Linked DNA regions of Homo sapiens: regions 2, 3 and 4 are each linked to region 1. The links come from fine-mapping of genetic effects on gene expression. A gene starts in region 1. Each other region holds a variant in brackets. All regions are shown on one strand. Distances are from middle to middle.

Region 1 (8,108 bases):
TCCTGTCTATTTTAGAAAGGAATCTGAATCAAGGATTTTTGGTATGGCTTCCAAGTTTTAGGACAAAGCTATATTAGTATACCAATTTAGTAGCTTATTATAAAGATCTTGGAAACAATTGATAATTTTTTCTTAACATTAAAAAATGACTTTTGTAAAATGTGTATACCATCGTTCCTACTGACACCAAATTAAAAGCAGGTGTAGTCTCAGGAGCTCTTTCTGTTCACAGGCTTCCCTGGTGAAAATAACTTCTTGCCTTGGAACACCTGAACAAAAAGCAGAGAAAAGTGTTTTTTTTTCTTTTTGCTAATGAAAAACAAATAAATCTTCAGTCAGTATATAATAGTACTTGTGTATATGGTGAGATATTTTAAAAGATGGTAGCTAGCAGAGTCAGTTCCCTCAACTCTACAGTTCTTTGCATCATTCCCTTTTATATGTTCCTTAGGCAAATCCTGAGTCAATGCAGACCAAAGCCATGAGCGCAATTAATGGAAGAAATGCATTTTCAGCAAATGGATGGCTGCTATAGTTAGGAAGTGAGGCTGAAATGGATATTGGAGAAAGATTTAGTGTTGTGTAGAATTTAATATATTGCTAGTAACATGGGTGAAGGCTATCTTTATCAAGTGTGACCTCTTAGCTTCTGTGTCTCCAAGCATGGGAAGTCCTAGCTTGTTAAAGCTTAAGCCTGCCTCCCCTATGGCTAAATGAACAAAGATGTATGAGACTTTTAACCAGAATGAAGGGGCCAGAGTCTTTGGACAGCAAATGGAGTGAAGCTAACTGGCCCTCCTAGAACTGAATCCATATCCTTGGCCTCATTGAGACCACTTGGGCAACTGGCTACCATGAATAATACAACATAGCAAATGAGATACTGACTTATATGAGTGTGGACATTTTCATTAGCATTTTAAAACTATAGCAATATTACTGTTAAAACACAAATAAGAGGCCCTCTTATGTGAGAAAATCCTTAGGACCAATACTTTGAGAACCTCCAGAGGAGAAAATAAATACATGAATTTTATTTCAATAGTCAATATTGAATAACAATATTTCAATGTCAGGCCTTTAAAATTGTATATGTAAAAGGTATAAAAGTGCTATAATGATAAAAATGAAAAATTTCTGATTTGGCCCCCACTACAGGCTCTCCACCTGCTGTTGATATTGGCTGCAGAGTGCCCCAACATTCAAATACAGCAGGCTTTGAGGTCTGACTTTGAACCATGCCAGTATCCCAAAGGTATTTGATTTCCCTGTTGTGTGCACCTAATTGAAGTCATAATAATGGCTGATAGCTTTCTCCAGAGGTTTAGAAACCTGGGAGGCTTTGGGTTTTTCTTTCAAAATGTAGTAGCTACAGTACCCTCTAAGACCTAAGGTCCAAGTCCTCCGGCTCTCTACTAAGAGTAACTGGTCTTGAGAGAGACTCAGTTTAAAATATAGGCTGTGTGGAAGCAAACCCAATGTGTATGGGGTATGGGGGCATGGAGGTGGTGTATGAACCTGATGTTTTCCACTTTGCTGTTCTAGAAGCAAGGCACTATAGTGGAGAAAGTACTGAAAAGTATTGAGATTGTTTTACTCCAAGTAAGAGGAGATTGTGTGACTCCTTTTACTAGATGTATGAATTTAGACAAGTAACTTACTATTAGTTTATTCTCTCCCGGTCTTAATGGGTGAACTAATAGCAAAACAAGTATCAAAGCACAGTGTCTGAACTACTATTTATCTGTACCTGTATGACTACAGCATCATTATTGGTGCATCTTTGGGAAATCTTAGAGAATGGAAGAAGTACCAATAGATTTCAAATAGAAGTAAATGTCCACCTTCCCCAGTTTACAGTCTGAAACAACAGCCTGAGACTCTTTTATACGCTGAGCTCCAGAACAATCTTAGATTTTGATAATTAAACAGCTTACTTTTGGGAACTCTAAAGGAACACAAAGACCATCAGGAATCCAAGTGGATGCACCAATGGTGTTACAGAACTCCATTCTTACTTCTTTTGTGGTAGGGTTATTTGACTGATGCGGGAGGTGGTGTCCCAGATTACATATCTGTATTTCAGTAAAGTATGTAAGAAAGGCATTTATAGTAGCCCTATGAACAAGAAGAAATTTGGGCTGCAAAATAATATATTTATGTAGGTTATTTTTTAATTATAACTTTTATTTTAGGTTCAAGGGTACATATGTAGGTTTGTTACATAAGTAAACTGCATGTCATGGAGGTTTGGTGTACAGATTATTTTGTCACGCAGGTAATAAGCATAGTACTCAATAGGTATTATTTTTCTGACTTAGGTAAGTTCTTGATCATTAAATAAGCATAATCAAAAGTATGAAAGTTAATCCAACAGGGCCTCTATTAGTATTCTGAAGGTATGCCATATTAAGCATAATCAAAAGTATGAAAGTTAATCCAAGAGGGCCTCTATTAGTATTCTGAAGGTATGCCATATCACAGGTTAGTAATAATTAGCACCTTGCCTGGCATACTCTAGCTTTAAAAATACCTTAAAGGTTCACATATAGAGACATCAATACATGATTGGGTATTACAATTGGAAGGAACACACACACACCCACCCACACACACACACACACACACACATATTTTTGAGACAGAGTCTCGCTCTTGTTGCCCAGGCTGGAGTGCAATGGCATGATCTCGGCTCACGGCAATCTTCACCTCCCGGGTTCAAGCGATTCTCCTGCCTCAGCCTCCCAAGTAGCTGGGATTACAGGCATGCACCACCACGACCGGCTAATTTTGTATTTTTTTTTTTTTTTTAGTAGAAATGGGGTTTCTCCATGTTGGTCAGGCTGGTCTCGAACTGCCGACCTCAGGTGATCCACCCGCCTTGGCCTCCCAAAGTGTTGAGATTATAGGCGTGAGCCACCGTGCCCACAGGTACTCAAGCACTTGCATGTGATCAAGATGGAGAAGAGCTGACTTTTGCAGTTCACGTGGGAGGAAAAAAGTAAATCTAGAAATTCTAGTTAACTCCAAACACAGTGAGTGTCATTAGTGTTTCTCCAGAAGCCAATCCAATATTAGGCTGCACATAAAGACTGTCCAAAACAAGGACGGAGAGCACAACAATTCAGGAAGAAGACCACCTGGAATGCTCATATGGCCATCAAAGATGACATAGGCTCTGGAAACTATACTACAGGGAAAGTTGGGGCTAAGAAGAACCTTGAGCCAGGAGAAGAAAAGAGTGGATGGTGGGCCATAGAGGCAAGCATGGCAGATGCCTTCTAAGAGGTGAAGGGCCACAATGTACAGATGGTTTGACTTATTCTAGGCGGGTTTCAGAAGAGGCACAAGGCCCAAGCTGAAGCCTAGAAGGTAGCAGTTTGAGTACAATACAAGAAAAAAACATTTTTCTTTGCATTTCTGATGTTCATCAGAACATATGGGACGGAAGCTCAGGAAAGAGATCTTAAGGTAGCATCAAGAGATAGATGTCGTCCACAAGGAGGCGGTATATGAAGCTGTGAAATGGCTTGGGGTTTCCAGTGTCTTCCACCATCATCAGCCCAGAATTACCACCTTCCCAGTTGCACTTCCTCCTAAATCTACATCTCTGGTGCCTTTTGCCTTGAACAGTCTCTTGCCTTGGAGCTTCTCGGCCATCAAACAGAAGGGGGCACCCTGCACCGTCAGTCAAGGCAAGGACCAATCTGGCAATCCCCAACCATGGAAAAGGACCTAAGGCTGGGTGGGATGTAGGAGCCTTCCAGGACCTGGAAGGGAGCCTCCTGTAACTACTCTCTACTCCCTTTAGAGTCCACAGGGCTGGAACTCTAAATGCAGAATAAGGTTAGGGGTGGGCAGAGAGGAAGGGTTGTGATGCCACCTGACTTCCAAATTGAGGGTGGCACAGGATCCCCCAGAAGCTCCCTGGGGTACAGAAGTCACAGCAACCCTGGACAATCCAGGGGTTTGGTAAAGTGTACTTACCAATTTTGAAGAGGGGAAGGGGTTCTCTTAAGGTGTAGAAAGGACTATCCAGGGAGTTGCAAACTTTGTTGTAAGTGGACAATCACCCTCGCTCCTCACTGCACCGTCTTCTCCTTGCCCAACAATGCACGCGGGTCCTAGCAAGGTATTCGAGTCCAGATCTCTCTCTCTCTCTCTCTCTCTCTCTCTGTCTCTGTCTCTCTCTCTTTCCTCTCTCTGTCTCTCTGTCTCTGTCTCTCTCTTTCCTCTCTCTCTCTCTCTGTCTCTGTCTCTCTCTTTCCTCTCTCTCTCTCTCTATCTCTGTCACACACACACACACACACACACACACACACACACACACACAGGCAAAGTGGGCAAAGCGGGCAAAGCGAGCAAAGCGAGAGGGTTGGTACCCAGTCTGGGCGCGCTGGAGCTAAGCAACTGGCCTTTGTTTGTGAATTGGAGCAGTTTAGGGGACATCCTCCGGTCGCCGCGGGGCGCGCGCCTCCGCTGAGTGTGCGGTGCGGTACCCAGCGGTGCGGGGGAGGCTCCACCGCGCCAGCCCAGGGCCCCCGCACCGCCCCCGCCAGCTCGACGCGCCCAGCGTTGCGCTCTCCACGGAGCGGGCGGCCGCAGCGCACTTGGCTGGGGCGAGAGGCGAGAGGGGTGGGCGGACTGCTTGGTTGGCGTTGGCGCTCTGCAGTGCAGTGGAGTGTTAGCCCAGCTCCCTATATGGTCGGGGATTAGCTTGGCGCTGCTGAGGCTGAGGCTGAGCCAGGAGCTGGAGGAGGAGGTGGAGGACGAGGACGAAAAGGAGGAGGAGAAAGAGCGCAGCAGCAGTCAGCGCACGCCGAGCGGCTGCCGGGGGAAGCAGAGGCGCCGGAGGCTGGGGCACCGCCGACGCCTCGGGAGCCATGGCCGAAGGGGGAGAAGGAGGCGAGGACGAGATCCAGTTTCTGAGGACTGTGAGTCTCCGCGGCGGGGGCGAGGCCGTGGGCAGGTGGGGAGGAGCGCGGAGCGCGGCGAGGAGGGGCTGGCTGCGCTGCGCCGCGGTGCCGGGTGCCCGGTGCCGGGCGCTTTCTCCGCACCCGCGGGCTGCAGAGGCGGACCGGCCACCTACCCGCGGGGCCGCGAGGGGCTGCGTGGGAAGGGGCACCATCTCCTGCCTCTCCCTTGTTCCCCTACCGCCACCCCTGCCCCAGGCCCTCCACCTAGGACCGCTCGCTCTCCAGGCAACTTGCTACTTGGTCTGAAACCCTTGATGCCCAAACTTCAGCCGGGGTTTGTTCGCGGTTGTCCTGACCCATAAGATCGGCGTTGGAAGCCCTCGCCCCGGGGTCGGCCCTCTGACACCTCCATACTCCACCCCAGCCCCATTCCTCTTCCAGGGCGCCCCCACGCACAGGGGAACCTCCGGGAAGGAGCCAGCGGGGCAGGGGGGAGTGTGGGGAGCCGGGTCGGAGAAGCGGGCGCAGGCGCTTGGTCCTAGCCCTGGGATCGCTCGGAGGGGAATTCACCCAGCGCTGCCCCTCTCGTGTTAAGCCCCACGCCGGCAACTGCTGCTGGAGCCTGACTTGACTGACTGCCTGTCGTGTGTTCGAGAGCTGTGGCTTCTGCTCCTGGCTCCCGCGAGCCCCGCAGGACAGGGAAACCCCAGTCAGTGGCTCCGCGTCACTCAGGTCCCCTCCTTGACACCTGAGGGCGCTGCTCCGTCCCAGATTTGGGGGTGAGGGGGCGAAGTCTGTTGCAGCCACACCAGCCTTGCCCTGTAGGAGATAATACAAAGACTTTCAGGGTGGACGGCCACCCGGAGGGGTGGGGGCATTGGGGATGCATCCTAGCGCTGACTTCAGCCAAGTGACCTTGAGCAAGTCGCATAATCCGCCCTACTCAGCCTCAGTTTCCTCATGTGTAAAATAAAATGTAACCAGCGTTTCAGGGTGATAAGGATTAAACGTTATCGTGAATGTCATAATGTTTTGTAAACGGCAAATCGCTCTGTAAATCTTAGGTAATTTTATATGCGCTGCCTTGCTCTCAGGAATTAGAATGAAATTCTTTCTTTCCCTCTCTCACTTCCCTTTAAGGGTGCCCCCTTCTCCATGACCTGGTCTTCGAAGATCACAACTTACCTCTTGTCCATCTTTTGAACCACTCTCCTCCTGTTGAAGCGCTTCCTTCCAATTTACTTCAGTTTCTCTTCCAAACATGGTTCTTTTGTCAAAGCTGGGACTTGGGTCTTATTTGGGGGGGGTATGGAAGTACCTATCGCCCTGCTGGTACTACTGAGAGGCTAGAGTATTCATCTCTTCATCCTTCGTCTGACCTGCAGACCCAGACTCCATTCTCATCTCTCACACTGCACACAAGATGGCCCCACAGTTGCAACTCATGACAACCCTATTGTTATAAAGCTGCCTGCTCCCCTCAAAGCTCCATCAAATCCTTTGGTTGTCCCTCTGACAGGTGTCTTTAGTAGTGGATGGGTGGCAGCTCAGGTTTTTTCTGCCTTGTGTCCTCCATGATCAGTCATTTCTTCTCCTTATTATTAATGATCTTCTAGGCGTTATTGCTTGAAAAAATTATCTTCAGACAGGGTCAGTGTTGAATAGATGTCCCAGGGAGTTGAGGCTTAGGAAGGTGGTAGTTGTTGTGAGATCCTTATGCTTTTCTCTTGGCTTCTGAGCCATCTTCCCTGACTTTTCCTCTCCATCTGGCATTGTAAGTGTTTTTTGTTTTTGTTTGTTTTTGGTACACCTGTAGCCAAGGTTTACTATAGTAGTGGTTCTTAAGTTTTGTGTCCTGGGCTTCCTGCCCTAGAGATCAGAGCTGGCAGACCTCTTTTAAAGTACACCCATGACAGCCTGTGGGGTTCAAGGACCCAGGTTCAGAGCCCCTGTTGCAGAGAACTGCATACCGGTTATGGCTTAGAGCGAGTGATGGTGGTAACCATGGGGGCAGTGACTCCAAATGTGGCGTTATTGGTTCTTTTCCTTCTAGTTATCACCTTATGTATTTTTTAAGGTGTGTTCCTCATTTCTTCACCCTATGAGGCACCTTAACATCTTTGTTTTTAGCTCACTGGGAAGGAAATAGGTGATGAAACTGAAGCACAGGAAATCGAGTGACTTGAACATAGCTGTTGACAAGTTATTGGTAATTTTCATTATACAATGTTCAATTACATTCCCGCTAGAGCCTGGCATTGAGCGTTACGCCAGATGTTATATATAGTCTTAAGAATATACCTAAGAACATAAGAGGAGTACTGCAGCTTTCTGAGCTTGGCATCCTCCTTCTTCATCTGTGAATTCGACAAAATGATTTTTTGGAATCCAATAGCCATAAGCTTTTGATCTCTGCACAAAATTTTGACTTTAGGGTAGTTGGGAACACCAGGCTTGTGCTAGCAGTGGGATTTTTCTCTCCTCTGGGTATGTCTGGGTTAGGGAAGCTATTTCACTTTGAACTCACTCAGTTACCTTTGCCTTAGGCTTTCTTTCTCCTCCCCAGACAACACCTTTAAAAGCATTTTGGCAGTGTATTAGTCATATATAATGCTTCCTCACATCGACATGGTCCTGGATGAGAAGGTGACTCATACTGGACCATGGAATAGAATCATATCTTTGTAACCATGAACTTTAAAGGATTGCCATCCCAGAGAGCAGAAGCTTTTAACCTATTTACAAAAAAAGACCATACAATAGCATTATGCCAAGGATCCTAATCAAATTGTTAGTGGTTGTAGTGTCAGGTTTGTTATAATAGTGCCAAAAATGAAAGCAGCTAGAACTATTGATAGTGTGAAATGAGCCAGAATTACTGCAGTAACCACTGTAGGTGTGTGTGGTGTGGCTTTAGACACTTATTTGTGGTAGTGTTTATTTTGGTTATGTCCTCTGATACATTTGGAAGCCCACCCTCTCCTAAGTAGGGAACAAGACCTAAACAAGGGCTTTGGAAGCTTAAACACATGTGAACTAAATGCTACTGTACCCCAAGCCTTAAGGAGGCAGTCTAAAACTATATACCCTCTTCTGGCCTTCTGAAATCACTGACAGTCATGTATGCCAGTTAGAATCAGGCAGATAGACAGAATCTTTAAGGCTAAAATTTTCCCTCCCACTGCTGTTGGC
Region 2 (8,108 bases), 220 kb after region 1:
ATATGTTTGAATTTTCTTCTAATATGCGTCATTTATTCATATTCTTTGCCGACTTCTATGAGGCTTAGTTTTTTTCCCTACATTTCAACGAGATAGTAACCCTTTTGTCATAGTGTTACAAAGTCTTTCTGTAGTCTATTAAATGTTGGTGTTTCCATTGTTCTGAATTTCAGTAATTTTGGTACAATCGTATCTGTCTTCTATTGCCTTTGAGTATATCTGATGCATCAAAGCATGGATAAATATTAGGTCTGTGAAGAATGTAGACTCTTCCGTTGCATGCTAGTTGTTTTAGAATTTAATTTTAAAATGAAATATTTAATTATGTTATCCATCTGTAACTTATCTTTTTATGTTTCCTGTGGATCTTACTGAAAGCTTTTCTCATTTGCCATCCGCATCTCACAGAGACTTGTGCTTAATAACCCCGCCTTTCTCCTGTTGTACTGAAATCTGCTTTGTCATATGCTACACTTTCATATAGTCAGACCTGTTTATGGACTGTCTGTATTGTGCCACACTTTTCTCTTTGAATCAGAGTATCAGAGTGAATTAATGAACTTGGCTTCATAACATTTACTAAAACCTTGGTTCTTTTCAGAATAAAAAATCCTTACTGTTTATATTGCCAGATTAGTTTTGTAGCAATTTGTGAAATTGCAAAATATCGCACTAGAATTGTAATTAAAACTGTATTAAATCTGTCAGTTAAATTTAGGGGAATAAGCAGTTACAAATATTAATGTTCTCATCCTGTAACAAAGTACACCTTTCCATTTCATCAAATCAAATCTTATTTTATACAATGAGGTTTTGTAGTTTGATTTTAAAGGTTGCCTTCACCTAAGCAGATTTCTAAAAATTTAACATTTTGTGGAAATCATGAGTAGAATCTTTCATTATGCTTTCTAACTGAATATACTGGGTGACTTGCTTTTGTTTATTTCTACTGTTAAGTATTATTGTTTTCTACTTATAAGGCATCATTACTATTTAGTTGTCACTTGTATCAAAGGAAATGCAAACCTCCCAGGCAATGTAAAAGGGCTCTAGCCTGTTCAGGAAATATTGTTCTGTGAGCTTCCAGAAAGACTTCTTTCTTCTGTAGCCTAAAAGAGGGGAACTGAAGTGAGGTGTGAAAGGAAGAGAAAATTAAAGTGCACATCCATGCTTGGAAAATGACTTCATCCCCTACAAGACCTCCTAGGAATATGACCTTCCAAACAAACTCAGCAAGGAGCCTTCCTGAGGCCTTGGAAGATTTCTTATTGCCTGGGACTCCCAAAGTGGAATTTAGGGTTCGAGATGTTAAAGGAAGTTAGTTTGGAGCTCTAACAGTATTGAAACATTTGTGTGTGGCTGGACAGAAGCATAGTCCCCTCCCCTCCTTAGTTGCCGTATCTGGTTTATCTGACTGGGAAGAAATATCCTCTGGGAACTACTAGAAGAAACGTCAGTAATGGAAATTAATTCTGAAATTACGGGCACGAGGATTGAGTTAATGAGCTAGTGGAACATTTTTCCTCTGGACATGGCATCAGGGCCTTTTACCAGCATTTCCCTGATCCACCCCCATCCTGCGAGATGGAACCAAATATTTTCCTTCTGCCAGTGGTAATAGCCAAGGTCACTCGTGGCAGGGACAGGACTGCCATCCTGATAAATCTTCCCAGTCTTGAGGTCTGGACCTCCTTTGTGAGCAGACCCACACAATCTTCTATGTAGCATATCACACCTTTCCTGGAATGTTATTCCAGAATTAGTATCAAACAATGAAAAGAGTAGAATTTGTAGTTAGACCTAAGTTCAAATCCAAACACGTTGCTGACAAGCTCGTCATGGGAATGTTTATTAAATTCTCTATGCCTTTTTTTTTTTTCCATCTGTAAGATGAAACCAAAACACCACCTCCCCTAATTACTTACTCATTCAGGAAATATTTAATGCATGCCTCCTATGGTGCCGGGCACTGACATGGGCATGGCAGAGGATACAACATGGTCATGGAGCTTATATTCTAGGGGGAGAGAGAATAAATTCATATTAAAAATAATACCACAGAAGATAATAAAGCAGAAAATGTGACAGAGTAAGGATGATTGTTCTTTTAGAAGACTTGACCAGAGAAGAATTCTCTCATAAGATGTTTGAGCACAGAACTGAATAAAGGGTGGAAATTAACCATGAGAATATTGGAAGAGCATTTCAGACAGAGGGAAACGTGTGCAGAAGCTTTGTGGTGGGAGCATGCGTGTCTGAAAAACAGAGGAAAACCAGTATGATTGGAGCAGAGGATGTGATGGAGAGCGTGCTGCTGGCAGGTGAAGTTAGAGAGGTATGAGGGAACCAGGTCATACAGGGCAGTGATATGCAAACTACAGCCAACAGGCCAAATCCAGACTATGGCCTGTTTATGTACAACCCTTTAGGTAAGGGAGGTTTTTAAATTTTTAGAAGAATGTTTTTAAAACATTTTTTAAAGGGCAAATTCTTTAAAAAATAAAATAAAATAAAATACATTAAGGCCGGGCATGGTAGCTCACTCCTGTAATCCCAGCACTTTGGGAGGCTGAGGTAGGTGGATCACTTGAGGTCAGGAGTTCGAGACAGCCTGGCCAACATGGGAAAACCCCATCTCTGCCAAAAATACAAAAATTAGCTGGGTGTGGCAGTGCACACCAGTAATCTCAACTACTCAGGAGGGAGGCTGAGGCAGGAGAATTGCTCAAACCTGGGAGGCAGAGGTTGCAGTGAGCCGAGATTGCACCACTGCACACCAGCCTGGGCAACAGAGGGACACAACTCTGTCTCAAAAAAAAAAAAAAAGGCGTATCATATTTCACCCACAAAGCCTAAAATATTTGCTATCTGCCCTTTTACAGAAAAAAAATTGCCTGATGCACGGCCTTAGAGGCCACAGTGAGGACTTTGTACTTGTATTTTAAGTATGGTGGGAAGCCATTGTGGGTTTTTGAGCAAGAAAGTAACATGATGTGATTGACAGTTTTTAAAGGATGTCTCTGGCTGCCGTGACTGAAAGGAGGAAGGGCAGAGCAGGGAGCACAGTTGGAAGGTCGGTGATTAACAAAACCCTGGTGAGACCTGGTGGCAATAGAATGGACTAGACTGGCAGGCGCAAGGTGCTGAGTAGTGGGATACAGAGTATCTTTTGGAGGTGGCACCGAAAGATGCTTTGAACTAATGGGGGAGTATGAGAAGAAGAAAGGAGTGAAGGATGACACCAAGATTTCTGGTCTGCTCACCCCTCGTAATGCTTTCATGGAAACGGAATGAGACTATTTTTTTTTCTACTTCTGTGGCTTGACCGTCCCATTTCTTCCACCATTTTGCAGTCAGGGTTCCCTTTCTAAGGTACAATTTTGATTGTGACACTGTCCTTTCAAAAATCTACTCCAGTATCCTGTTAGCTGTGGAACAAAGTCCATCCACTGAGCCAGTCAGTCTGAGCCCTCCATAATCTGGCCACCCCTCACCTACATCCTGTGTCATGTCCTTTTACTCCTGTTCATCCACCCCACCACAAACCAGCGAATGGTCTGCAAGTCCCCATATGTGCTTTATTCTTTCCACTTCCAGACCTTTGCCCACATGTGCTCCTCTCTTACTATGGAGGTGTGTCAACAGTCCTACCAGAATGTTGTGGCCTACTTTTACAATAAGGTCATTGCATGATACCTCTTTATCCTCCTAGTCTATTTCAATACTCTCTGCCTTCACCTATTTTAATAGGTGTTTCCATTTGTAACATCATTTTTATACACAAATCTCATCCCCCATCATCAAACTTCAGAAAAGGAGACAGTATAGCACATAGTTAAGTGCCCTCACTTTTGTTAAATCCTGACTGTGAACTTGGAACTTATATGACTTTGAGCAAGCTACTTAATCTCTGTAAACCTCAGTAGTGTGTGCCCAATGGTAGTAATCACCATGATGATAATTATCAAAAGCTCTGTAGGAAAACCACTTTTGCCATTCTAGCACTTGAAGCTTGCTTGTTCCCTGAAAGCAATGGTTCTCAAAACATGACACCCCCCTCCCCCAGCTTTTGGGGATCAGTGACTCTTAATTCTTCTTATGATTAGAGAGTTGGTAGGGACAAAGAAGAGTTGGAGGAAGGTAGGAAGTATAAGCTGGTCAGTGGATCCGTTTGAGATGTAGGACTGTTTTGGGAGGACACACCCACAGTGTAAGCCATCAGGAGCCATCCATTAACTTGTAATAATATAAGTGGATAAGATCAATTTTTGGTAGATTGGCAAGATGTGAAAATTATTTGGTATGTCTAATTTTAACATTAGCTGTTGACACATTTATAAATACAGAAACTAAAGTTAGTGCAGATGATTTCAAGAAATTTTAAAATATTGTGAAGAGCATTGTAATTCCACACAGTATTAAAGCCTGGAGAACACTTAAATAATCTCTGTAGCTGTGGGAAAAAGCGCAGCCGCATTTATATTTAGTTACCGGCTTTTTTGGAACATGATACCACGTTTATCTTTTTTCTCTTCTTTAGGCTCATTATGTGACATGAAAAATCATCTTTTTGACAGAGTGATGCTATTAATCCAAATA[G/T]AATTGAAATAAAATTACTCCAGGCTTTGTCCTCCACACTACCTGATTCCCTTTCCTCTGCATTGCTCATTGGTGTGGTTGCAGGTGGACACGGGAGACGGGCAGAGCCTCAAACCAGTCCTTGGGCTGCCAGTCTGTAACTCTGAATAAAATGGACTGCATAAGAGGTGTCCTTGAAGAAAAATGCTAGAATTATCTTCATAATTAATTTTTATCTCAAGCTTTAGATTCTCTTTCTGTGCATGTTTGGGGAGGGGAGGGCTTATGCTCAAATATTTTCTCCAAAAAGGGTGTGTGATCAAAAACTTGATTGCTGGTTAGCATGATGAAGAGATACTTAGGTGAGAGGTTGGAAATGTTGATGCCAAAAACTCCTAGAATTTTCTGTAGATTTCCATTTTCCATGCGACCTACTCACCTCTAACTATAATAAATTACAGTTTTGTCTCCTATCATGTACCATTCAGTTCAGCATGGTGACGTGTGAATCAGATTCAGGGAAAGAATAAGAAACAGACACCAGTGGCTTTATGTCGGGCCATCTCTCCCTCTCATGCCTCCCTCTCCCACTGTTTGGGCAGCCACTGAGCAAATAGCCAAAGTGGAACTGCCTGGTGAGGCAGAGAAGATACCTAGATGGTCTCTCAACTGAAGGATCTATTTCTGCATAACTGGTTACCCTTTTAAAGTCCTGGATTTCAGAGCCATCTCTCGTTGGTGAGATCTGTGTATAAAGGACCCATTTAAGGGAGTGGGCAGAAGGCATAAGTGCCTTGAAGGGAAAAGACTGCATGGCACAGAATGTGACCATGTGCCGCCTGCCACACTGCCTTTGTGTTGCTAGGCTATGGCTACATCACATTTGTTTCTCTCTCTCACTCTGAACGCTTCTGAGAAGTTTCAAAGGAAGGTAAGCAGTACCTATGTCACTTACATGCTTCTCTGGTAGAACAGCTCTGGGTTTCTGCTGATCCTGGGCAGAGGCCATTTCTGGGAATAGATTTGGTCCCACACACCCTCTCCCAAGGATGTTGCATGGCTGTGGTCACACGTCTCTTTCTGCCCGTAGACCAGCCACTTGCTTCTGGAATGAATTCCTTAGGAGCTTTGCAATGGGTCTTTTCCTGGTAGTCTGTCTCCCAGAATTATTGTGTTGCTTGGCTCCCGGAGAAGCCACAACGGGCATGTGCTGACCTTATTCTTCCTCATTCCCACAGGCAGCACAAGGAGGTGGCCACAGGACCCTGTTATACGGCCATGCAGTTCTCCTGAGGCACTCTTTCAGCGGAATGGTAAGCAGCTCTGGTGCCCACTTTCATCATTCAAGGAGAAGGAAAAACTGAAGAGGGGGAAATACAGGAAGCCAGCAATAACAACGTAACAGCAGGAACAATTGGAACATAACTAATTTTAGCACGTTATCCTCTTGGCATTTCCTACATATGACCTACCTCAATTTGCAATAATTGCAATTGTGTTTTTTGTTTCATCAATGTCTGATACCCCACCTCCAACTCCCTGAGGAAGAGGGCCATGTTTCTTTCTTATTTTGCTAGACCTATAACCCCACCAAATGCAGTGCTTTGATATACTAGATGCTCAATAAATATTTGTTGAATTGACACATGATCAAATGGCTTATGGAGTAACAGAGCGCTTTAGTATACAAGGATAACCAGCATAGAAGAAAAACCAATCAAATGGAAATTTTGTGACAGTTCTCCTCCTTTACCTAGCTAAGAGAAATAGAATGGTACTCACTGTTTTCAGTCCTGGAAGAACTTGCAGGTGGGATGCTAATCCAGAGCCAGGAGGAAGACAAGAGGCAAGGTAGTCACAGAAAGCTGCATGGCTATTACTAATCAGGGATCTAGAACCAGAATCGACAGAAGGATGATGCCTCAATGTAACTTGAAAAAATTGCTACATTTTAAATATAATTTATTTATAATTTATAAAAAAATATAATTTTACAATATTTTAAAAGGCAGATATTGTAGTTTTGCAGGGAGTATTAAGGAGAATATTATTACTCAATCAACTATATGCCACTCCAATAGTGTATCATCCTCACTTTCTTTCGGTGTAAGAAAGGCTTGTCATTTTCCTCTAGCCCTAGTGGAAAACTGATACGTTAATTCAAGACTATTTCCACACATTTATACCAGCAGCATGATGCAAAGTTCATCTCAAGGCTTGAACTATCAAACTGACAACAGGAGCAACAGCTGCCTGTTAAATAATTCATTTGCTGCAGCATATATATATATATATTTTTTTTTCTGAGCACTGGTAAGAGGCTGACCTTTTCAGCCTGAACATTCGTCTGCTGTAGTCCTTCATGGCAAAAGACGAAAAACAAAAATGTCCAAACGGAAGTGTATCCAAGTAGGAGATGGAGATGTTTTTGAGAGTAGGGAAACTTTGAACCCTGATAATATCTGGAATTGAGAAGGTGATACTATCTTTCAGAATCTGGTGTTTATCTATAGGGTAAATAAAACTCCAACACTTGTCTTTACCTAAATGTAATAAACAGAACTTCAAAAGCATACTTCTTATGGCTTCAAAAACAAGCTAATATCATGGTAGTGACACAAAGACTTGCATTATTTACATTAAGTTTACCCCTCCTAAAAAAAAGTTCTACTCACAGTGAACATATACTCTCTACTGGCTAGCTCCTTTTAAGTACAGCTCTGGGAATAAAGCCTATAAGATATGGCTTTCTACATTGCAATGATTTTCCATCTTCCTCTCGCAGAGAAGTAGAACTGTGGCTTAGAAAGCACATCCCAAGAGCTTACCTGCCTCTCAGTCTAATCCTAAGATGAGCAGCTATGCCCATCAGTGAAGGAGGCCATGGGATGCTTTATTAAGTTAGTTTAACAGTCATTTCTAAGTTTTACCTGCCCATGTATCTTTATAATAAGAAAAAGAACCATTATTTTGAGGAGTTTTAAAGCTCATAGAAAATTTGAAAAACCAAAAACAGAAGGTCATGGGACCTTCTGTCCCATGGTCATGGGAAGGTCATCCATGTCCCTCCACACTATCCAAAATCAACTTCTGTTTCATTTTTGTGTAATTCCTTTTAGTCTGGTTGCTACACATTTAAATTTTTGAGTACAGGTTAACTTATAATTGTACTATTTTATATATTACTTTTTAGCTTCATGTATTGTAAATAATGTTCCAGGCTCTTACACATTCTTGATAAATACTCAATAACATAATATTATATAAAATAGCAGTATCAAAGGTTATCTAGCTTTATTATTATTGTTGGTCATTTATGTTCCATTTGTATTGTTCCTAATTTAAAAGTTTCTCAACATCTTTAAGGCATCTTTAATATTTCTAACTCATTTCTATAACATATAGTTCTATACATTTAACTACTGAGTCATCAGATAAGAGCATCTTTGAGGTTTTAAGTGTATTGTAAAAGTATTTTCAGCTGGGCATAGGGTGGTTCACATGTGTAATCCCAACACTTTGGGAGGCCA
Region 3 (8,108 bases), 140 kb after region 1:
TGATAATTACTTTATCCATGGCGAGGTGCAGAATGAAAACTAGGGACTATTTCTGCCACCTGGAGAAAATTCGTTTAATTACCACTGACCTCACTAACTTCTGCTTTTCTGATTCTCTTGCTCAAATTAGTGTTCTCCTCGCAAGGACCAGGCAAGAGATTGAGATTTTCTTTCGAAATTGAAGACTTAGGACAACTGAGCTCTTCCCTCTCAGATAAGGAAGCTTTAGAATAAATACTAATATTTCTTTACATGGGTGAAAGTTGGGTATGAAAATAAGCTTAATGTGTTTGTATTTGTTTGCTAGAGCTGCCACAATAAAGTCCATAGATTGGGTGGCTTAACAGAAATCTATTTTCCCACAGTTACAGAGGCTGGAAGCCCGAGATCAAGGTGTCAACAGATTTGGTTTCTTCTGAGGCCTCTCTCCTTGGCTTGTAGATGATGACTGTCTTCTCCCTGTGTCTTCACATGGTCGGCCCTCTGTGTGTGTCCGTGTCCTGATCTCTTCTTCTAAAGACACCAGTGAGATTGGATTAGGGCCCACCGTATGACCTGATTTTACCTTAATTATCATTTATAAAACACTGTTTCCAAATACGGTAAATTCTGAGGTACTCTGGGTGTTAGGACTTCAACATATGAATTTTGGAGAAGCACAGTTCAGCCCATAATAGTATCCCAATCTTAATTAGTTCTGCCAGAAAACTCACTCTAGTGCAGAAACTTAACAGCTTCCTTTTAGCACTTTAGTGTCATTAACAGCTGTTACTCTTCCTTCTCTTACATATATTGTAGAAGGCAGGTTCTCCAACGCCTTCACCACCTTGCTCTGTTGCCTCTTGCTCTCAGAAAACTTTTTTCCTGCTCTTTCCCCAACAAATGGAGTTGATGGCAGACTCTTCTATGCCATTGTAGAGTGCGTCTCACCCTGCACCACAGTTCTTTACTTGCATCTGCAGCCCTGATTAGAATGACAGAAATGAGGCCAAAGGCCGTTTTCAACTTTGCATTCTATTATTTAGCCTGGCGTAGTATAAGTGCTTAGTAAAAGAAAAGGTGGGATGTACATGTGTTAGTATTAGTTTGGAGACAGCTTCTATTTCATGTAGTGTCAATAAAGGTAACCTTTTGTTCATTGCTTAGAACTTGGTATTCATGATGATAAATTCCTGTACTCTAATTACCTTCACACAGAGAACCCCCTGACTTCATTCAGCCAGTAGCCATTAGGGTGACTAGTTGAGAATGGGGATAACTGGGTATGAACTGGGCAGTCTTCAAAGCAACAGGAGAACTGGACATTCTGTTAATGGTAGGTCAGGAGCATTCTGTTTTCCTAAAAGGACTTCCTTCCCCACCCCATGCCCACTTACTTTCCTCCGAGCAGTATTGGGATTTTGGACTTCTTAGGAGGTTAAGGTTGTATTTTGCAGTACTCCAGTCAGAGCAGGCATTGGGTTGTGCTCCCTCTGGGAAGGACATGAGACGATGGGCTTTTTCACAGATAAGATCATCCTTGAAAGGACTGTCACAGATAAAATTGTCCAGGATGGAGGCCACTAGCTACATGTAGCTAGGCAAAGTTAAATTAAATAAAATAAAAATTCAGTTCCCCAGTGACATCTGACACATTTCAAGGGCTCAATAGCCACACATGACTAGTGGCCACAGAGTACGGACCATTTCCATCATCACTGAAAGTTCTTTTGTTCAGCATAATTCTAAAGCCCAGCTCATAACTTTTTGTTTACTTCAATAGATGATAATAGTAATAAGTACCATTTAGCATGCACTTACCATGGGTTAAACTCAAATCTCTTTTTGAGGCTCAGTGAATTAAGTAATTTGCCCAAGTTGGGTCCCCCAAATTGGAAAGTAGCAGAGACAGGATAATAATAAAAATATATTTTCTAAAATTACCAATGTAAGAGATAGAAAATGGTCCTGTACTGTAATTTCAACTTACATGCCTTTTACAATGAGGTTAAATTGGAGCAAAGCAAATTATCTGAGGTTTTGTTTCAGACCAACCTGGCCTCAGTTTCTTCTCTCTTGTCTTGGTTCCAGTGACTTGAGGTGGCTGAGTCTTCCAGTGAGGGCCTCCGGGAGGATAAGCAGCCCCTCTCAAGAAAGCAGACGTCTGGCCAGCTGCTGGCCTCGAGAATATGGAGACAGTTTGTGTTTCATGACTGCTTTTTGCTCCTCTCCCTTTTCCAGATCAGAGTCATGTTTCAGTGGGACTAAGAGCAGGATAATACCTTTTGCCCTGAGGCTACCCAATCTACCAGTGAACAAGAATAGGACCCTGAAAGGGTGAAGGAGGCCAGTCATTTGTTCATGTTTCCCTGTGAGTTATAAAACACCCCCATCAGGGGAGACTATTGTAGACCTCTCAGAGAAACAGGCATTTCTGAAGAGAAAAACAAAGGCAAAGCCTTGAGAGCGAGATTTGAAGGTGGCTGAGCACTAACAAGGAAATGTACATAAAATAAAAAGTATGTACAAGAGTTTCCACAGATGGTGACAAAGTAATGATGAGGGCCTTTTGCTGCTAGACCAAAGGTGAAGTTTATCCAGAAATCAACTTTAATCTGTATTTTCACTATTTCAGTGCAGTTGGGCTCCTGGGGAGAAAACAATCAAAGAGTAAGAGAATTATGGTTTTGGGAAGCGGATTCTGGCCTCATTAGGTGAGGAGGCTGACAGGTGGCAGGACCTTTCTTGTGCAGTCAGCTCCTGAGGGTCAATGGCTCTGTCTCGGTTGCCCCTTGCAGCTGATTGGAAGTGGCTGCGGCTGCCTGGAGTGTGGGGGAGAGAACGTGGTCACTGATTATCCTCGTCTTCCACAGGTTTAGAAAGGGAAGTGGTGCCACAAACGTCAGGTATTTGTGACGCAAGGGCCTGAGAAGTAGTCCCGGAAAGAGTTTCACTACTCAAAACTTGTGGCAGAGAGAGTAATTAATTGTCTATTGCTGAGTGGCAAGTTATCCCCAAACTTAGCAACTTCAACAAACTTATTACCTCAGTTCCTGTAGGCTTGGAATCTGGGTGTGGTTTGGCTGCAGCCTCTGGCTCTGGTTCTCCCACAGGGCTGAATCAAGGTGTCAGTGCGGGCTGTGGTCACCTTAGTGCTCCGCTGGGGGAGGATCTACTTCCAAGCTTACTCACCTAGCTGGGACAGACCTCTGGTCCTCACTGGCTGTTAACCAGAGACATCCATTCCTGACCACATGACCCCCTCCGTAAGGCAGTGGATTCCACAGTGATCAAGCGAGACAGAAAGAGGGGTCGTACAATGTGAAACTCACAGTCTCCTTGTAACATAATCTTGGCAATGACATCGTGAATCAAGCCACTAGGTCCAGCCCATACTCACCGGGCAGGGATTGCACAAGGGTGTGAGCTCCAGGAGGCAGGAATCACTGAAGGCTATTCAAGAGGTTTCTACATAACATAGTGTGAATGGGGGGCAGAATATTAAATATATTATAGAAATACATTTGTTTTATTAGTAATGTATTTTAAAATGTAACAGTGTCGTGTGTTGTCCCATGCTGAATATAAAAATAACACAAATGCCATAATGAAACCTGAAAGAATTCTGATGGTTCCTCTAAGTTTAATCAGATTGCTTTTTGCAATAACGTCAAGAGAACAGAAGTTTTGGCAAGGTGTATAGGGTAGGTCAGTCATTTTCGAGCACGGATCTCTTTGCTTCAAAGACGGTGTTCATGCTGGTGTGAAAGGAAGGTATTTAACCAGAGGGAAGCATAAAGATCCCCCAAATCCTGGGTGGGACTGGGAGGAGGGGGACAAAGGCAGCCGAGGAAGTAGAATGGGGACTGGATGAGGTGGAGAATACCCAAAAGGAAAGTTAAACCTAGTTTGAATTA[C/T]TGCTTAGTGGCAGCCCTGCCCTTCCCTTCTAGAGGCAAAGTATCCATAAATTATCTGTTATCTCAATCCTGCTTTTTCCTGTCCTTACTGCGGCTAGAGCATTAATACCTAAAAAAAAAAAAAAAAAAAAAAAAGCCGGCAACTGTGAGCATTAGCAGTTACAGTTCTCAAATGGGAGAATTCCAGGGGCATCCACACCCTGCATGGCTTCACTCAGATACAGCTTAGTGGGCTCAGATGTCTGACCAAGAATCTGAGATTTTGTGTTGTCCTTAGAGATAAAAATCCTGCTAAATAATTAGTTCTTGAATCTAATGGCTGTACTTTATTTGGGAAAACAAGACTCTGATTGTGAGTTTAATGGATTTCTAAGGCTAGAAGGCAGAGAGGGCAGGGACTGGATGCCACCAAGCCCCAGGCTGTACACCCTGTAGCTTTGCAAGCAGCAAGACGCTTCTGCCGCCCGCCCTCATCTCAAGCTTCTCTAAGTCAAAGTTCTCCACACAGCAGTTTACAGAGCCCGAGGTGCTGAGACAAAACTGTTTGGAGCAGAGTGACGTTATCTATTCCTAGGCAGAGCTCCTTGAGCTCCTTGCACCCTCTGTTCTTGAATTTTTTGAGGGTTCTTTTTTTTTTTTTAATACAATGTCAGCTTATGGGCTACGTATGTATCTTTTATTTACACTGCACACCTTGCAGCATCCTTACCTTGCAGAGTACTGAGTCCTGGCTTCATGAATTTCATGTCAAGTAAATGGGTTTTAGTCATCCCTAGTTCATGTGCATGTGCCGAGAAAAAGGGGAGCTTCTAAAACATGTGCGCAAACCACAGGAAACAGTGCAATCCTGTGTGTCTCCTATTCCACTTACTCCTCAAGGCCCCAAGGTAGGACGCATGTTTGGTGGCTTTCTGGCTTACAAGTTCCAGTGCCTACTCCCATTCCCTCAGAGGTTTGCTGTGATCACTGAGGGAAGCAGAATGGAGCATCGTGTGGTCCTTACTGGAGACTCCTTGCAGCACCTGAAACAACCCAATGTTGTTAGAGGCAAATCTGTGCTGGCAAACCTGGATCCTCATTTTATCTCTACCACTGTGTAGCTTTGGGTAAATGACAGATAGTCTGAACCTTATTAGTTTTCTCACATGTAAAATGCAAATGAGATCATTGTCAGTGTTTAATAAAGTACTGTTTATAAAGTGCCTGGCACAGAGCTGGTACATAACAGGCACTCCATAAATGGTGGCTTCCTTCCACTTTCCCCCAGTAGATAGCAGTGACCTTCATTACCTCTATTCAAACGGGCACCCTGTTCTGCTCCTTTCTCTCTCTACCCCTTCCCCACTTATCTTTCAGGATATTAACAGTTCCCATTAGCTTAGCCTGATAGAGGCTGGACAGTATAAAATGAACGGATGAGAGTGACCACTGGCTGCATAGCTCTGTTATAAATTGTCAAGATTGTCTTGGAAAAGGAACCTAAATTTTGGGGAAAAAAAAAAACTGGGGAAAAATGTGCTCCACAATCATGTGAGTGAGGTGGACAAGCAGGTTATGTTAACTCCAGAATTATTAATGCGTCAGTGACGTCTGCAGCAGCGTGCCAGAACTTGCCAGGATGGAAAAGAGGCTGGAAGATCTTCAGGTCACAGTCAAGTCCAAAGACAAGCCTAGTCCAGTGCAGACAGGAGTCAAGTCCAGAGTGACATAGCAAGGAAGATGGAATCCCATGCAAAGTGAGAGACTAAAAAAGTTGAAGCCTGAAAATTTGAGTTATTAATATTTCTGCTTTATAGTTTATAGGATGCATCTTCATGTATGATTGTTATTCTTCACAGTAGTCTTTGACTTCGTCATTATTAACTTCAGTTGATAAATAAAGCTCATAAAATTAAGGGATTTGCTCAAAGCCATGCAGCCAGTGAATAATCTAATCAGTACTCAAACCGGAGTCTTTGGGATTTCATTCTGGTGACTTTTTAAAAATTAAATCACAATCACAGACTTAATCAAACTGTCTAAGGCACTGAAGTCTGGTTGAAGGCCCGGAAAGGGCCTCCATGCTCCAACAACCAAACAGACGTGATAGTGGGACAAGACTCTGGGGCCAGGCCATGTGTGTTTGCCTCTTTCAGAATTAAAATTGGTTCCAAAGGCTGCGATCCAGCCTTTCTTTTAGAGTAAGCTCAGTTATGGGGTACAAATCAGGGCTGAAAGGGAATGTTTCTCATTGTTGGTTCTGCCCTGGTAATCACCCAGAGTGCTGCCAGTTCATTGCAGGACAGAAACAAGATATTTCTTTTTAACTTCCAACTTTCCAAAGCAGGACTGATACTGTGGCTTTGGATCGGTAATCTATCAAGGATAATTTATATTGCTTAGATTTAAAGCAGCATCTCAATTGCCAGAAAAGCAACCAAAGAGAAAAAAAATCAGTCCCATTTCTTCTAAATCTTGGCTGCAACTTTAGAAATAATATGTCTATGAAAATCAGACTACTTATTTCTATTATTATAAGAAGACATAGGCCATTGAGTATTCGTTATTCTTAAAGGGCTTCTTAAATATAATGATAGATCATAACAAAATGCCAATATCTACTGAGTACTTGTTAGATACAAGTACTGTTTTGGAGGTTTTATATTTACTAACTCATTTAATCCTCAAACAATGTGTGAATAAATGACTATTATTGTTTCCATTTCACAGCCAAAAAAATTGAGGTGTGAGAGGTTAAAAAAATTGCCAAAAGTTACATGGTGAGGTTCAGGGAGAAGATTCCAACCCAAACAGTCTGATTTCAGAACCTGGTAGTTTTCCCTACCCTGCTATAATGGATTTTATATGAAACTTAAAGTAGTGAAATTAATCAGTGAACAAGACAGACTTTAAAAACACCGTAATACTTTATTCCTAATTACAGAAAAACCTACAGCAATCTGTTAGGGTCAATGGAGGCTCAGTCTCTGAATGTTTGACTTGTCTGCAAGCAAATCTTCATACCAACATTTGCCAGAAGCCTCCTGGCTCCAACCTTTCTCCTTCCTTTGAAGACTCCAGTGAGGTTTGCTGCACTTGAAACTAGGGTTTTTTTCCTTAGGGGCAGCAGCCTGAACTGCAGGCCAAAGCTTCAAAATGGAATATAGTCAAGCAACAAGTTCTATCTCAAAGCTCAAAATAAACTAAGACCTTTATTAAATCATCCATTTGTTGGCTTAAGAACATTTGAAAGGTTAAGTGCTATATTAAAGTAAGATTTGTAGAAAAAAAATAAACCTTAATTACTATTCAGATGGCTTTTAGGCATTCTATGTCGATTTACCTCTGATTCTGGCCCAGATGTAGTTGATTTTACCAGCATTTTTCAGCTTTAAAAGTACTTTAGCTGCTTGGGGACTTTTGTGTATTCTAGAACAATCTCTGCATAATATTCCTACCATTGTATGTGGCTAAAGGAAACAACATTTGCTTCCATGATTGCCTGGGTGAGAAAGTCTTATATATTGATTGCTTATCCATAAAAAAGCAGAAATATAAAATAAGACCTACAACAGTTCTGTAGGTTTGGTGCAAAAAGGAACAACTGCTGTAATATAGTGATGATTCTCCCAAAGAATGTATATCTGTATACAAATGTTAACTGTCCATTGTACCACAAATCCTGGTATACTTGGAAAATATGCATGTGGAGTTGCATCGTCTTTGTGTTTCTGCAACAGTTGCCACGCAGTTTCCTGATTTTTCTATGGAAAGAAAAATAAGGATGTTTTTTCTAAAAGAAGTATTAGGGAAATAATACTAATGTCTTCCTGTGTTTTCATATGAAAAAAAAGTTAATTTACAATCAAGGAACCCAGACTGCACACAAATGATTAACCCTTTGACTCTGTTGGAGAGGAACAGTGAGTCAAACACAGCCTTTTCTTTTCATTGGGTCCTTTCCTAGGATCCAGCGGGTAAATGATTGACTTGTTTTGAATGAAGAATTGTTGAATTCTTGCCAGGTTGAGGCTTGGACAGTGGTACTGGACCTGAAAATTGGCAATAGCTCAGAATCTAAGCAGACATCATAAGAATTCTGCGTGAGGCTGGAGGCTATCCTTCTGGTCTGTTCCTTCAGTGATTTGTGAGGTGGGAGGCTCACTTGACAAAGTTTTGCGAAGATGCTGTAGTATTGGAAAACATGGCTTCTGTTGACATGGAGCATCCAGT
Region 4 (8,108 bases), 76 kb after region 1:
AGGGCACTGCAAGCAGATGTAACCTAGAAGGATGGTGTTTTGGGGAACTGCAAGAAGCTTGGTGGGGCTGGAAGGAAAACTGGATATGGGGAAGTAAAGGAAAATGAAGCAAAGTGTGTAGGCAGCAGCCAGATCATAAGGGACTCGTCTGCTGAATTTAGGTATTAAAACTTGGTTGTGCATTAGTATAGGTACCAACATAAATATCCACAGGAACTGCTAATTTTAAAAGTGGCTTTTTTTTTTTTTTTTTTTTTTGAGACGGAGTCTCGCTTTGTCGCCCAGGCTGGAGTACAGTGGCACAGTCTTGGCTCACTGCAACTTCCGCCTCCTGGGTTCAAGCAATTCTCCTGTCTCAGCCTCTTGAGTAGCTGGGACTTCAGGTGCAAGCCACCAGCCCGGCTAATTTTCATATTTTTAGTAGAGACAGGGTTTCACCATATTAGTCAGGCTGCTCTCAAACTCCTGACCTTAGGTGATCCACCTGCTTAGCCTCCTAAAGTGCTGGGATTACAGACATGAGCCACCGTGCCCACCCCAAAAAATGACATTTTATACTTTCAATATTGTGCAAAAGAATGAAGTAGATCTGTGTACATTCATATGACGTAATCTTCAATATAAATTACATAAAATGCATTTGTGTAAAATGTTGTATATGACATATCTGTTAATATAACACATATATATGCATAGAAAAATTTTGTGGTACTGTTAATAGTAGGAGCCCTGGGGGCATGGGGTGAGTGAACAACTTACATTTCATGAAAATGATCCTTACATTTTAATGACAAGAGTCGTTTCATACCCTTTGGTAATATTTGAAATTTTAAACCTGTAGCTGTATTATCATGACTAAAAAAAAAATTCTTCAGTTAAAAAATGAACAAATTCTTCATACCTAGAATGACTTAGCACCTCTGACAGATTTGAAATAAGAAAACAATGTAATCATATTTCAAAAAGACTGTTAGGCCATAGTGAGGAAACAGAGATGGAAGAAGTGCCTCATGGAGGCAGGGAGACTAGGTGAGTGTTGGAGACTGTTGCAGGGATCCCAGACAGTAAGTGATGGGGGTAACAGTGAAGATCAAGACCAAGAGAGGATGGAAAAGTGAATGATGAGCATGTCAGAGCTCCAGGATATGCATGTGAGAAAGGAGGGAGGAGTGTGACATGACTGCCAGCTTTGTATTGTTGTGGCAACTGGCTATCTAGTGTTGCCGTCATGAGAGAGGAAAAAATAGAAAAAGGCCAGAAAAATGAATGCAGTTTTGAGATACGCCACACTTCGGTGATATGTCATATTTGTGGTACCTCTGACTGGTGATCCCTGTTGGCATCTTCCGGAAATTGCCTTCTGGATTTCATAATAGCATGAGTTAATGTCCGGCATTTTCATGGGGTCCACAATACCTGAGTCTTACCTTTCAAACTACGAGAGTCCACCTTAGTCTCTACTTGGTGTGACCATTTTGTTTTTAATTGGGTGTACATTTGCAGGGTTGTTGCATGGATATATTGCATGATGCTGAGGTTTGGCATACAGATGGTACCAACACCCAGGTGGTGAGCATAGTACCCAATAGGTAGTATTTTTGGCCCATGCCCCTCTTCCACCCTCCCCCATCTAGCAGTCCCCAGGGGCTACCATTTGACCCAGCAATCCCATTGCTAGGTATATACCCAAAGGAAAATTATTCATTCTGTCAAAGAGATACATACAGTCGTATGTTCACTGCAGCACTATTCAGTTGTAAACCCATGGAGTCAACTTAGGTGCCCATCAACAGTGGACTGGATAAAGAAAATTGGGTACATATACACCATGGAATGCTATGCAGCCATAAAAAAGCACGAAATTATGTCCTTTGTAGCAACATGGGTGCAGATGGAGGCCATTATCTTATGTCAATTAACGCAAGAACAGAAAACTAAATACCACATGTTGTCACTTGTAAGTGAGAGCTAAACAAAACAATGGCTTTTGTCCTGTGCACTCTGCCCCCCTTTGATAGGCAGGCAAGTCCTGTCTCCTAGGTTTAAAGCTAGGTCTCCCTTTGAGAATCTTGCCATTACAAATATGTAAGATACAGCTTTTGGACCCAGACCGAGGAAAGATGCCTTGACTGTTTATCTTTTTTAAGCTTTCAGAGAGGATAGCAACCTAAATCTTCTGCCTTCCTCAAGGCACACGAAAAGGTAAAGTGGATGAAGAGTCTACTAAATAATGCAGGCCAGAGGCATCCGGGTTTTGCCTGAATTATCTGAAAAATTCCTTGGCTCCTCTGATTATAATTGAGTTTTGTCAACACAAATTGGGTATTTTGTACTTGTTTTTTTGGTCATTATTATTTTAATTAATATAATTATAATATTATATTATAATATTATATTTTATATTATAATAATTATACTATTATTTTAATTAATAATATAATAATATTAATTTAATTAATATTATTTAAATTAATATATACTTACGGTGTACAACCTTATATATACATATCTATATATGCACACACACACACACACACACGTTGTGGAATAACTACATAAATTTAATTAACCTATCCCTTACTTCACATACTTACCATTTTTTTGTGATGAAAATATCTAAACTCTACTCTCTTAGCAATTTTCAATAATGCAATGTATTGTTAACTATAATCACCATGTTGTATAATGGATCCCCTGAACTTATTCTCCTGTCTGCCTGAAATTTTGTATCCTTTGACCAACACCTCCTTAACATGCCCCCCACCTGAAATTGACTGCATTTGTTTTGACTAACGATTTTCTAAGGGTTGATTGGAGGTAGTGTGGAATTTCCAACACTATAGCGGAAGCATTTAAAGGATAACTATGAAAGAAACAGTAAAATATGACCATAATATTTTAGCCTTGATGTTTTTCCCTTCCACCCTTAGATGTGCCAGCAAGGTATACGAAAAAGAAAGCTAAACAGTTTCCTGTGAAATTTCACGTAAAATCAAATTTTTTATGTCACTTACCACAGCTTTTTCCTTATTCCTCTACTTTTTCATCTACATTAAAGGGTTATTTTCTGGATGTATACAACATTCACCATTTCACTCACGGAAATGAGATGCTGCGTGATTAGTTAATAAGTGTTTATTGATTACTTCTGGGCCTCTTGGCAGAATTGAATTAGAGCCAGATACTATCCCCTTGTGCTTAATAGTACTTTTTTTTTCCCCTTGTAGAAGGTGGAGAAATATGTTCTCTTTGCTAACAACAGAGAAAATGGAATTTATCTTTTTTATCCCTGAAAATGCCAGGATACTTCAGTTCGACTGATTATTTTTAGCTGAGTAATGGGCATTATGATTCAAGTCATTCTTAGTCCATAGCTACTTCTACTACTGCTTTTATCTATAGAGTTATGAGACTCCAAAGTTAAAAAGTACTTACCTATTGTCCTACGTTAAAAACAAACAAACAAAAACCTCATAGTTTAAAATCTGAATGGTAAAGCTAAATACTCATCTTCTATGTTAATACTGACTTTGGACAGTAATGAGTTGGCTCTATATTGAGTATTTTCAAGAAATATGCTGACACTTCTGCCCCCTTTTTCTTTTCTTTTTTTTTCTTTTTCTTTT[C/CTTTTT]TTTTTTTTTTTGAGACAGGGTCTCACTCTGTAGCCCAGGCTGGAGTGCAGTGGCATTATTATGGCTCACTGCAACCTCCAACTCCTGGGCTCAAGCAATCCTCCCACCTCAGCCTCCCAAGTAGCTGGGATTACAGGTGTGCACCACCAAGCCTGGCTAATTTTTTTAAGTGTTGGTAGAAATGAGGTCTCACTATGTTACCTAGGCTGGTCACAAACTCCTGTGCTCAAGTGATCCTCCCGCCCTGGCCTCCTGTCTTGACTGGGATAACAGATGTGAGCCACTGTGCCCAGCCTCTTTTCTTTTTTTTAAAACATGTTACTGTTATAAAATAAAAACAATCCTTCTTCAAGAAAATAGAATTTATGGATTTAAAAGGCTAAAAAGAAAATCTTTTAACTTTCTATATCAATTTGTCTTAAGGTGGTAGCATTTCTTTTGATTCATACAGCCTGAAATTCTTTTCTTTCCAACACCACCCCTCTTGCTTGCTTTGTATATTCCTAGAAAATTTGTACTAAATATCAGAACTCCTGTGTTCTGAGCAGTTTCTTTAACTCATTGGCGTTTCATTCCTTGCTGTATCATAATTAAGACCATTTCCAAATACAGAACAACTCATAAGATGTCACTGAGCCCATATCTTGGAGAAGAGTGTTAATATAAAAATATGTGTTGCTAATATTGATTACTTTCGCGTCAAAAATTTAAAACATTGCCATGAGCTGGTGCACTCAAATCAAATTGGAGTCATGCCAGCATGAGCTGAAATTGTAATTGCTGAGAAGACAATGGATAATGCCCCAGTACTTCTGCTACAGCTCCTTGTCCTCTTTTTAAAAAATCATCGTAACCATTTTCAGGTGTACAGTTCAATATTGCTAAGTATATTCATATCATTGTGCAACCAATCTCCACAACTTTTTCATCTTGCAAATCTGAAACTCTCTATCCATTAAATAACAATTCCCATTCCCCCTTCCCTCAGCTTCTGGCAACCACCATTCAATTTTCTGTTTCTATGCATTTGATTACTCTCTAGATGTGTTATAGAAGCGGAATTGTAGAGTGTTGGTGGCTTATTTCACTTAGTGCAATGTCTTAACATTCATGTTGTATCATGTGTCAGAATTTTTTTCCTTTTTTTTTATTTTTTAATTTTTTTGAGACAGAGTCTTGCTCTGTCGCCCGGGCTGGAGTGCAGTGGCACAATCTCAGCTCACTGCAAGCTCCGCCTCCCAGGTTCATGCCATTCTCCTGCCTCAGCCTCCTGAGTAGCTGGGACTACAGGCGCCCACCACCACGCCCGGCTAATTTTTTGTATTTTTAGTAGAGACGGGGTTTCACCACGTTAGCCAGGATGGTCTCGATCTCCTGACCTCGTGATCCACCTGCCTCAGCCTCCCAAAGTGCTGGGATTACAGTCGTGAGACACCACGCCCAGCAATATTTTTTCCTTTTTAAGGCTGAGTAATACTCCCTTGTATGTATATACTATGTTTTGTTTATTCACTAATCCACTGATGGACAATTGGGTTGCTTCCACCTTTTGGTTATTGTGAATAGTGCTGCTGTGAACATAGGTGTACAAATATTTCTTAAGAGACTCTGCTTTCAATTCTTTTGGGTAGATACCCAGAAGTGGACTTGCTGGATCATATAGCAATTCTATTTTTCATTTTTTTGGGAAAATGCCACACTCTTCCATAGCAGCAGCATCATTTTACATTCCTAGCAACAGGGCACAGGGGTTCCAATTTCTGCACATCCTCACCAACACTTGTTATTTTCTATTTTTTTGAGAATAGCCATCTTGATGGGCATAAGGTACCTGTCAGTTTTTTGTTGCTTGATCCTTAAATATGTGCAACTAAGGATCACCAGATATTTGAAGAAAATCTGAAAAATGAAGAAAAGAACACAAGATGAATAGGCAGGAAAAATGACCTCACAAAAAAAAAACAGAAATAGAGAAGAGATTGGATTTTTTTTCTTATGATTCTCAGAAAAATGTAAGCAGACACTGCATCCATAGAACAAAATGCTCTAAAAAAAGGAACAAAGAACAAAACGTTTAATGTATAACTGTATAATGTTTTTTAAAGTACTGAAAGGGTAGATGATTTTGAGGCAGGTATAATAGAGAAAAACAATGATGGAGAATGTGAGAGAAAAGATAAGTTATAGAGAATAAGTCTAGGCGGACTAGAAAGAAAGAACAGAGGAAAGAAAGAGGAGGAAATTATAAAAAAAATTTTAATTTCACAACACTAAAAAACAAGAATGAAGGGAGCCACTTAATGTCTAGCACAAATAAATAAAACATGATCTACAGAGAAAACACAGTTTCTGAATGTTCTGAACACCTGGGATAAAGAGAAACATTTATGAATCTTTTGAGGAAGAAAACAACAAAACAAAACAAGAAAACATAAGAACAGGCCACCTGCAAAAGATCAGGAACCATAGCAACAAAGGATGTGATAGTTGATAAAGTAAAACTTTAAGTTTTTGAGTGAAAATTATCTTCAATTTAGATTTCTCTTCCCAGCAAAACTATCAGGCAAGTGTAAGAATAGAACACAGATCTTTCAGATATGTTCTAAGTGGGAGAAAAAAGTAAAAGGGAAGATGGTATAGTGGAAATAATAATTTCAACCCAATAGAGTAAGGAAGGAGAATCCCAGGTTGACAGCTGAATTTTACTGACAATTAGTTATGATTGGAGCAGGAGAAATGATTGCTTTGGGAGGAGGTATCAGAGAGTAGGGATTAGTGAGGAAAAGCGATTCTATAGGTACATTGCTACCTTTAATTTCCTAGATCATATAAGGAAGCAATACAAACATTGCAAGAATGAAGACAAGGACAAGTATAAATCCCAGGATAAATAAAATGCTATAAAATAAAGGAAATAGAGCTACGCTATACCATTGGCTTCTAAGAGTGAACAGTAGTTATGGAGTCATCATTATATAGACACTGTTCATTGATTTCAACTTTTAGAATTCACCTATAGACAAAGCATGGAAGACAGACATGGCTACAGAACAGCATGTAAGTATTATCAACCTCCATGCTATAAAAGTGTAAACATGAACAACAGAGAGCTTCAGAGTGAAGCTGGGGAGGAAACCTGAAGGGGAAGATGAGGGCACTCATCACTCTTTATTCCTATAGAACGGAGAATTAAGAAAATTCTGCCCATCATATGAGTTCATGTCCTTTGTAGGAACATGGATGAAGCTGGAAATCATCATTCTCAGCAAACTATCACAAGGACAAAAAACCAAACACCGCATGTTTAATTGAACAATGAGAACACATGGACACAGGAAGGGGAACATCACACACTGGGGACTGTTTTGGGGTGGGGGGAGGGGGGAGGGATAGCATTAGGAGATATACCTAATATTAAATGACGAGTTAATGGGTGCAGCACACCAACATGGCACATGTATACATATGTAACAAACCTGCACGTTGTGCACATGTGCCCTAAAACTTAAAGTATAATAAAAAAAAATTCATCATAGATGGAATAAGAAATGAAGGGATAAGTAATTACAAAGGAAACCCATACAGAAACCAAAAGTAGCAATCAATAGATCATATCTAAAATCAATACATTAAGAAATAATAGTGTAAGTATGTTTTTTAGTGATATGGAGATGATCAGTAGAAAATTAAAAACAGGGACATTTAAATAAAAGTGGTTGCTACTAGGGAATAACAGCAGCTGGCATGTGGTAAGGCGGGAGACTGACTTTTCATTTAAAATAATTTCTTGACTATTTTGTAACAATGGGTATCGATTACTTGCATTAAAAATTAAGAATTTAATACACAGATTAAAAGTAAAACTGTCTCCTACCGCAGCAAGTAATGTAATGGAGTGACAATTATGACATCTATGGAAAAATATGAAAAATATTTGTCCTGTGTTTAAAATCTGAACCTTGATGTACAATGTGATCATAACCTTATAAAATATATATGATCTGGACAGAGTCTGAAAGGTAACATGCAAAACAGGCATTTTGTGTGAAATCGTGAATAATTTTCTCTTTGCAAACTTTTATTTAATATCTTTTCACTGCTTTTTCAAGGATGCAGTTTAGTATTTATGGGTTATTATTACATGCAGCTATTTCACCTTTCAGTAATATTTATGAAAATGTAACATGACAGTGAATTACATGAGAAAATAGCATCCTATAAATATGCTACCTTGCCACTAAGAAAGGTCACTTTGGCTATAAAAAGTTACAATGAAGAGGGCCATGTATTTAGGCTATGCTGATTAGTTTCCAATTTCTATCATTTCAGGTATGTAAATTATTGCTGAAAACATGGTTTATGTTTGTGGTAAATGAAATTTATGTCGCCGGATGAATTGGCTTCACTGCTGGAAATCTGTACTGTTATTCCAAGCAGAGTCTCGCTGCTGGGAGACAAGAAATGAAATCTCAGTTTTCAAT

Alleles and levels. Positions count from the first base shown, and alleles are read on the strand shown. Sizes are in standard deviations (SD) of each study's normalised expression. Not every link is listed here.
For the expression in aorta of the gene that starts at base 4,805 in region 1, allele G in region 2 goes with a lower level than allele T (small effect, 0.27 SD a copy in GTEx).
For the expression in adrenal gland of the gene that starts at base 4,805 in region 1, C is the low allele of the variant in region 3 and T is the other (moderate effect, 0.48 SD a copy in GTEx).

What was found. PIP is the estimated chance that this variant, and not a neighbour inherited with it, causes the effect. A credible set is the group of variants that fine-mapping cannot tell apart.
Region 2: its variant is the best candidate, but not a certain one, in a credible set for the expression of RYR3 in aorta (GTEx, PIP 0.63).
Region 3: its variant is the best candidate, but not a certain one, in a credible set for the expression of RYR3 in adrenal gland (GTEx, PIP 0.64).
Region 4: its variant is the best candidate, but not a certain one, in a credible set for the expression of RYR3 in skeletal muscle (FUSION, PIP 0.51).

The regions. Positions count from the first base shown.
Region 1 is chr15:33,306,163-33,314,270 of GRCh38, forward strand. It overlaps RYR3 (ryanodine receptor 3), which reads left to right and starts at 4,805. Exons shown (of 104, transcript NM_001036.6): 1 at 4,805-4,934. The coding sequence starts at 4,884. It overlaps RYR3-DT (RYR3 divergent transcript), which reads right to left and starts at 4,497. Exons shown (of 3, transcript NR_120327.1): 1 at 4,416-4,497; 2 at 170-269. RefSeq lists enhancers at 5,026-5,537, 5,538-6,047.
Region 2 is chr15:33,524,776-33,532,883 of GRCh38, forward strand. RYR3 (ryanodine receptor 3) reads left to right here. Exons shown (of 104, transcript NM_001036.6): 4 at 5,817-5,891. Among named protein-coding and RNA genes, the nearest start is that of RYR3, 220 kb to the left of the region's middle. The variant G/T (reference allele first, on the strand shown) is at 4,600.
Region 3 is chr15:33,446,081-33,454,188 of GRCh38, forward strand. All of the region lies in intron 1 of RYR3 (ryanodine receptor 3), which reads left to right. Among named protein-coding and RNA genes, the nearest start is that of RYR3, 140 kb to the left of the region's middle. The variant C/T (reference allele first, on the strand shown) is at 3,897.
Region 4 is chr15:33,382,084-33,390,191 of GRCh38, forward strand. The region is part of intron 1 of RYR3 (ryanodine receptor 3); the gene reads left to right. Among named protein-coding and RNA genes, the nearest start is that of RYR3, 75 kb to the left of the region's middle. The variant C/CTTTTT (reference allele first, on the strand shown) is at 3,627.